3 separate regions of the Homo sapiens genome follow, and all the other regions are linked to region 1. Evidence: fine-mapped expression QTL. A gene starts in region 1. Each other region holds a variant in brackets. All regions are shown on one strand. Distances are from middle to middle.

Region 1 (2,684 bases):
GTTAAGCTGAAGATGAGAAGTCAGGTAAGGCCTCACATTTCTAGGGGCTCTGGAAACTTCCTTTCTTTCTGTCTCCTGCTTATGTATGTCTTTTCCTCTATCTGAATTGCTTTTGTATAGAATACTAGAACACGAGATGAAGGGGGGAAATGCCAAGAGAAGCAAATTTCTACAAGCAAGTGGTCTTGCTATAGCTTGAACGCCTTAAACAAATCTGATATTTAAAAAAAAAACCAAAAACAGTATCAAGTGGTAGCTTCATTCTATTTGTCCACCTTTAGGGCTAATTTTATATACCTACACCTCTGGAAAAAGTTACTACTGTCAGATTTGCTCCCAAACTTTGAGAATTGTCATTATGGTCTGCAGCATTAAACCTAGATTATAAATTATCAATGTCACTTGATTATAAATTATCAATGTCACTCAACTGAATCACACCAAGCAACGACAAATGTAGATTTCATTAAGAGATACTGTTAAAATCACATTCAGACCTCAGAAAGGCAAGATCCCATAACCCAGTCACAAACACAGCTTCAAACGCTTCCCCAACTTTTCAAGCTTTGGGGCGCCAAGTCACTGGGAGTTAACAGCTTAAACATGGGGTTCAATACAACTGACCAAAGGAAGTGAAGAAAACAAAGCATACATTAATTTCAGCACCAAAAATATGGATTTGCGAATTACATCTACTGCTAATAAACAGATCATTCTTTACAGCCTAAGTACGCCAGGCATTTTTTTATGTTTAAATGGCTTGCCACAAATTGTCCTAGTCGAAACTGATGGCAAAATCCTAAACTGATCTTCGGCGAGGAGACACTCTGCATAGAGCATCACACAAAAGACAGGAGCGAACAGACACGCTCTGGGCCTCGGCGGATTGCGGCCAGGAGCCCAGGTTTTCGTCCCAGACCCCGGCAACAGGGAGGGAAATAAGGGCGGGGGAAAGAAGGAGTGGGAGTGGTATCCTTTTCCCTGAAAGCGCCTGGGAGTGAGGAGCAAAGAGGGAAGGAGCGAGTGCAGCACAGAGGAAGCAAGGAAAGCAGCCGACCGGCGTCAGCGGCTTCCAAGGCCGGCAACACCCTCGGGCCCGCACCAGGCCTGGCCCTCCCGGCTTCGTCCCACCTCCTCACCTCCCTCACATCCTGCAGGCACTCGAGCACCGCCAGGTTGTTGCTCCAGGTGTGCTTAGGGCACACGCGGGTCACGTCCTCCCTGCAGGACTCTTCCTCCGCCAGCTTCCAGCCCCCACCAGCCCCCGCTCCTCCCCGCCGGGCCGGAGGCCCACCCGCCGGGAAAGGCGGCTGCGGCGGCTGAGGCTGCTGTTGCTGTTGCTGCTGCTGCTGTTGCTGCTGAAGCTGCGATGACTGAGGCAGCTGGGGCAGCTGCTGACCCGCCGGGCCGCCGCCTCCGGCCTGCCCTACGAAGGACACAAAGTTGGCCCCGGGACCCTGGCCCTGGCTGTGGACGCCCTGGCCGGGGAGTTTCTCGGCCCCGGCCGCGAATAGCAGCAGCAGATGCAGCGCCGCCGACAAGCGGAACATCCTCCGTACACGTCCACACGCCGCCATCTTGAGTCCGCGGCGAGCTCGACGCACTCGCCGGCGCCGCGTATTTAAATGAGGGGGTGGAGACGCTGGGCGTGGCAGCGTGGCCCTGCCGAGCCCCGCCCCGCCGGCGCCGACCCGCGAACCCAGAGTGGGGCGAAGGAGGAGGCCGTGCTGGAAACCGCACACACCCTGGACCGGCGGGCGGGAGAGCGGCGCTCCTTACCCGGGGGGGTTGCTGGGGTTTCTTAAAAAGCCCGGGCAGGGCGGCCTACTCTAATTCCATTTGCTGTCACAAAAAAAAAAATCAAGGGAATTGGGGTTGCCACAACCAAAATGGCCGGTAGAATATGTCGCCGGTTCAATGACTTGGAAAACAAAAACTTTATATGTAGAGGTGAACTTTGCACAACCAGGTGTATTACGGAATCGGAAAGCCTCTCCTTGTATCGCTCCCTCCTTCCTTCCTTCCTTCCATCTGCCTCAGAAGTCTTTCTTAGCCAAAGAGAGAGACAGCATTGAATAGGGTTAAGAGCATAAGTTCTGGGGTAAGAAAAAAAATTAAGGTTATAATCCTTGCTCTGGCAGGGTACGCAAGAGCTCAAATGTAAAGTACCATTGGCAAGATTCGAAATAATAATTTAAGTGCCTGGCCCACAACACTGAACTCAAAAAGTCACAGCCAGTATTGTTAATAAACTGGGAAGCCGTTTATGCATGAATCCTGATTTTAAGCCAGCATTTAGATTCATGTTTAAAGGATGAAAAAATAATAATAAAACACATCTTTGAGGACTCGGGTTAAGTCTGTGTGTCGGTAACTGTTCTCATTGACCTGCATGCAACACCGCAGGCACCCCACACTAGCATCCCCTCCCTGTCCTTAGGAGAGAGGATATGTTCCCAAAGCCTCTTCACATCCGCTGTGTAATCTGAGCCATGCATCAGGCCTGCGTTAGGTTCTCATTTAACTGAAGAATGGCACAGAGATGTTAACAGTTCTGCGTGGAGGGATTAAATGAGCTGCCCAAGAGGAACTCTGCCATCCTGTAGACAGCTAGGCTAGCCACCAGAATCCCTGGGGCTTCCCACCACCCTGGCGCACTTTCATCCCACTCTGTCCATGCACAT
Region 2 (2,684 bases), 44 kb before region 1:
CTTTAAGCTCTTTACAACCAAGTAAAATCCTAGAGCATTATGTCTTCAAGAACGTTCATGGAAAGTAATGGAAAGGACCCTAATAAGCACTACTGAATACAAGTTTCTGATAACTTTAGGCTCATCTAATTTGGACTGGGTAAGAATTCCCAGAACTTTAATAAAGAGACTGGTTTATAAAACTGCTAACCCAAGCAGGACAAAAATTAACTGAATACTAAGAAAAATACTCTGCCAGATTTTCATGCTAAATCAGCCAGTACTAAAACTGTTAAGATATGCAACTTGAATGAACTCTATGTTCCAAGTCAAATTACCTATGATAACCCATTTAATGAACAGTGCTATGCACCTGAATTGGAGATACAAAATTGGTATTTAACAGGCTATAAATGCAATGTTAAGCATGGAATCACAGAGATCCTGCACAGCCACCTGGTCCTTCCTGAATCCGTAAATCTTCCATTATTAAAAGCTCTGCACTCCATGACTCATCATGGAAGACAGAAAATGATCCAAATAGAAAACATATACATTGGTGTGGTGACTGCTCTAAATCGCTAAAAATGGTTTATGACCAAGGTTTGGCTTATCAAACCTACAACCTGGGAAGATAATTAAAACTTCAGCTACCTGATGGGTCATTGGAACACTTATAGAGGAATTTCATTCAACTGTCATTTTCAACACGTTTTCTGGTAAAAGCTTTCTCATGCAAGAAGGCTGATGCTATAACAGTAGCTAAAAGGTTGTCAGAAAATGTGTTTCCCTCACGGGGCATTCCTGGAGAAATCTCCAGTGATAGTGGTACTTGTTTCACTGGACAAGTTGTAAACAGTTAAGTAAGGTATTACAGACACAACAGCTTTAGGTGAAGCTAACTGAATTGACTGGTTGCCTTGGTCAAAGGTATTGCAGATTGATGACAACCTCATCTGCTTCCAGTAGAAAATATAAGTTGACTCATTATGAAATAGTCACTGGAAGGCCTATGCCACTAATAATAGAACCTCATGTATCTTCCTCTCCCAAACTCTGATATGAATAAATGCTGCAAGCCTTTAATGCATTATACCAAAGTGTATTTTCACCAGCTAAAGGAAGCTTTTCTTTTTTTTATTTTCTGTAGATGGTCTCACTCTGTTGCCCAGGCTGGAGAGCAGTGGTGTGATCTCAGCTCTCTGCAACCTCCACCTCCCGGGTTCAAGCAATTCTTGTGCCTCAGCCTCCCAAGCAGCTGGGATTACAGGCATGCGCCACCACACCCAGCTAATTTTTGTATTTTTAGTAGAGATGGGGTTTCACCATGTTGGTCAGGCTGGTCTTGAACTCCTGGGTTCCAGAGACCTGACCTCCAGTGATTCGC[C/A]CACCTCGGCCTCCCAAAGTGTAGAGATTACAGGCATGAGCTACCGTGCTGGCAGTAAAGGAAGCTTTTCATGACCCACCCACTGAGGACATTCAAATCCTTCACAATCTAGAACCTGGAGGTTGGTTCTTCTGGAAATGACGTCAGGAAAACACTGCCCTTGTTACCCACAATGAAGCAAAACTCTGGGGCCTCAAACACTGGGTCAATTGATATCACAATGCAGGAGGGCCCCTCCAGACTTGGAATTGTACACCCATTGGAAATCTTAACGTAAAGCTAACCAGTTAGAAAAGGTTTTCCCCCAGAAGCAGATGGCACCCTAGACATGGACAGCTTTCCCAAAAGCATGGATCAAAACTTCTCTGTCATCATGAGACTCTTACCTCTCAATGTTTTCCTTGTTTATGCCTCTATGAACAACAGAAAAGGGGTCTTATGGTGCACCAATGGGGCACACTTTTATTTGTGAAAACTTTTACAGCCAACCTTATCCATAGGCAGCATTATGTCTTAATGGATGAAAGATGACAGTCCAATGTGGGTTAGGAATTTTAATGGTTCTGTCAGAAAGAGAACACTGGTCCACTCCTTTTAACCTACATCAGAGGTGAAAAAGAACACTAGTGCTTGGAAGCCTTCATCATTCTGAATGGCCTTCATTGTTAGGTCACTTTTTCCAGAGTTTGGAGTAAACGATACAGTGTCTAGAAATTTGTCCCTCATGGGCTGGACGCAGTGGCTCATGCCTGTAATCCAAGCACTTTGGGAGGCTGAGGTGGGCAGATCACTTGAGGTCAGGAGTTCAAGACCAGCCTGGTCAAAATGGGAACTCTGTCTCTAGCAGAAACACAAAAATTAGCGGGGCGTGGTGGCGTGTGCCTGTAGTCCCAGCTATTTGCGAGGCTGAGGTGGGAGAACTGCTTGAACCCAGGAGGCAGAGGTTGCAGGGAGCCGAGATCACGCCACTATTCTCCAGCCTGCGCAACAGAGTGAGACCCTGTCTCAAAAAAAAAAAAAAGAAAGAAAAAGAAAAAAAAAAGAAATTTGTTCCTCATGATATGCTCCATAGCAGATTCTACTGCAAAGGCTATGGTTACAAAACAGACTTCTTTAAATTATCTTGCTAAAGGTCTACTGGATAACAGAATTGCTCAAGGTTGCCTACTGGCTAATCAGGGAAGTATCTGTGAAGTTGCTGACACTTTTATTTTTATTCTTTGAGACAGGTTTTTGCTCTGTCACCCAGGCCGGACTGCAGTGGCTCAATCATGACTCATTTAGCCTCAACCTTCTGGGCTCAAGTGATCCTCCCACC
Region 3 (2,684 bases), 30 kb before region 1:
ACCAATATTAGAACTCAACCAAACCAAACATACAACCAACTGTAACACCAAAATACAGCCTCAAAGATCTCTCGCTCTGTTTTTGTTTGTTTGTTTTTTTGAGACAGAGTCTCCCTCTGTCGCCCAGGCTGGAGTGCAGTGGCACAATCTCAGCTCACTGCAACCTCTGCCTCCCGGATTCAAGCAATTCTCCTGCCTCAGCTTCCGCAGTAGCTCGCTCTTTATTTTTATGCTGTAAATATAGATATCAATGAGAAAATATTGATTTCATAGAGAAGTGGCAATATATTCAAATTCATCACCAACAAAAAAGCAGTATCACGAAACCATATACAACCAACAGTAAGCATACAAGCACAGTGTGCTCTCATGCTCTCTCTCTCTCTCTCAAAATTCCAAACTAGCCAGGCGCGGTGGTTCACGCCAGTAATCCCAGCACTTTGGGAGGCCAAGGTGGCAGATCACCTGAGGTCAAGAGTTTGACACCAGTCTGGCCAATGTGGTGAAACCCTGTCTCTACTAAACATACAAAAATTAGCCAGGCATGGTAGAGGTTGCCTGTAATCCCAGCTACTCAGGAGGCTGAGGCAGAACTGCTTGAACCCGGGAGGTGAAGGCGGCGGTGAGCTGAGATAGCACCACTGCACTCCAGTCTGCGCGACAGAGCGAGACTCCTTCTCAAAAAAAAAAAAAGTTCAAACTATTTTAAGTCTGTGGTGTCATACATACACATTTGGCCCTGGTTAATAAAACTCCACACCAACTATTAAAGACTGACAAATTCCGTGAATTTCTATAAAAATGCAAGACATATAAAGAGAATACAGCCAAACATTTTTCTAACTTAAAATGACACCATGATTTGGATGGATCATAGACCATTTTAAATGAGTTGCATGTACATTATATATTATAGTCTAAGACACGTGTCAGCAAATTTTTTCAGTAAAGAGGCATACCATACTTATTTTAGGCTTTGCAGAACACATACAATCTCTTGTGGTCTCTATGGCATCCCCTTAATAACCTTTTAAAATTATAAAAACCATTCTTAACTCCAGAGCCATACTAAAACAGGTTGTGGGGCTGGATCTGTCCCTTGGACTACAGTTTGCCCACCTCTGGTCTGAGATATAAATGGGGCATAAATGAGTGCTTCATAAAATAAGGTTGCTGGAGAAATTAGAGAACAAATCTATTCTTTTTTAAGGTACAAAAATTGCTAAACAAAAAAATAATGAAGCCTGCTGAAGAAAAAATTTTTATTGTTTTCATTTTAAATATAATCTTTGAGTATACTTTCTTTACTCATGAATGAGATACTGAATTGAGTAGCTGAAGAAATATTTTTATTTTTACCTCTTGGAAGAAACCATGTACCCTGCATATAAATTCTAACCACTCCTAATTTTTTTTTTTTTTTTTTAGAGGCAGGGTGAATGTCACTCTGTCAGTCTCCCAGTGGCATGAACATAGCTCACTGCAGCCTCAACTTCTTGGGCTCAAACAATCCTCTTGCCTCAGCCTTCCAGGCAACTAGCACCATAGGTGCATGCCACCATGCCTGGCTAATTGTTTTTAATTTTCTGGTAGAAACAGGAGTCTCTCCATGTTGCCTAGGCTGGTCTCAAACTCCTGGGCTCAAGAGATCCTCCCACCTTGGCCTCCCAAAGTGCTGCAAATACAGGTGTAAGCCCACTTATTTTAAAAAA[T/C]AGACATTGAGGACTGGGTGTGGTGGCTCCTGCCTGTAATCCCAGCACTTTGGGAGGCCACGGCGGGTGGATCACCCAAGGTCAGGAGTTCGAGATCAGGCTGGTCAACATGGTGAAACCCCATCTCTACTAAAAATACAATAATAAGCCAGGTGTGGTGGCAGGCACCTGTAATCCCAGCTACTCGGGAGGCTGAGACAGGAGAATCGCTTGAACTCAGGAGGCAGAAAGTGCAGTGAACAGCAATGGCACCATTGCACTCCACCCTGAGAAACAAGAGTGAAACTCCATCTCAAAAAAAAAAAAAAAAGAATCCCAAATACAATAATGAAAAACTATAAAACAGGAAGGGGTAAGTATTCTGACTTCACACGAAAACATTCTTTTTATTTTTATTTTTTTGGAGACATTGTCTCATTCTGTCACCCAGGATGGAGGGTAGTGGCATCATCATGGTTCACTGCAAGCTTGATCTCTTGAGCTCAAGCAATCCTGCTTCAGCCTCCTGAGTAACTGGGACCACAGGCACTACCAGCCACCATGACCGGTTAATTTTATTTTTATTTTTTGTAGAGATGAGGTTTCAGTATGTTACTTGGGCTGATCTCAAATTCCTGAGCTCAAGTGATTCTTCCACCTTGGCCTCCCAAAGTGCTGGGATTAAAAGTGTGCAGTGGCTCATGCCTGTAATCCCAGCACTCTGGGAGGCCAAGGTAGGAGGATTACTTGAGGCCAGGAGTTCAAGACCAGCCTGGACAGTAGAGAAAGACCTTGTCTCTCAAAAACAAAACCCATTCTAACAGCAATCATTTGGATTTGCTCCTTGTTCTCTGTTAAAACTAAAAGAATGAGTAAGACACAATTTTGGTTGTCTGAGGTATTTTGTTTGTTTTTGTTTAATTAGACCTAAGTTGCAATACATTTGATCTCTTTTTGAAAAACTGTTTATTATGAGTATGTGATGACTCATGA

Evidence for each region. PIP is the estimated chance that this variant, and not a neighbour inherited with it, causes the effect.
Region 2: its variant is the best candidate, but not a certain one, in a credible set for the expression of GLG1 in whole blood (GTEx, PIP 0.61).
Region 3: its variant is the best candidate, but not a certain one, in a credible set for the expression of GLG1 in whole blood (INTERVAL, PIP 0.50).

Annotation. Positions count from the first base shown.
Region 1 is chr16:74,605,518-74,608,201 of GRCh38, forward strand. It overlaps GLG1 (golgi glycoprotein 1), which reads right to left and starts at 1,597. Exons shown (of 26, transcript NM_001145667.2): 1 at 1,140-1,597. The coding sequence starts at 1,577. RefSeq lists silencers at 1,168-1,347, 1,578-1,767.
Region 2 is chr16:74,561,354-74,564,037 of GRCh38, forward strand. All of the region lies in intron 1 of GLG1 (golgi glycoprotein 1), which reads right to left. Among named protein-coding and RNA genes, the nearest start is that of GLG1, 44 kb to the right of the region's middle. The variant C/A (reference allele first, on the strand shown) is at 1,367.
Region 3 is chr16:74,575,517-74,578,200 of GRCh38, forward strand. All of the region lies in intron 1 of GLG1 (golgi glycoprotein 1), which reads right to left. Among named protein-coding and RNA genes, the nearest start is that of GLG1, 30 kb to the right of the region's middle. The variant T/C (reference allele first, on the strand shown) is at 1,713.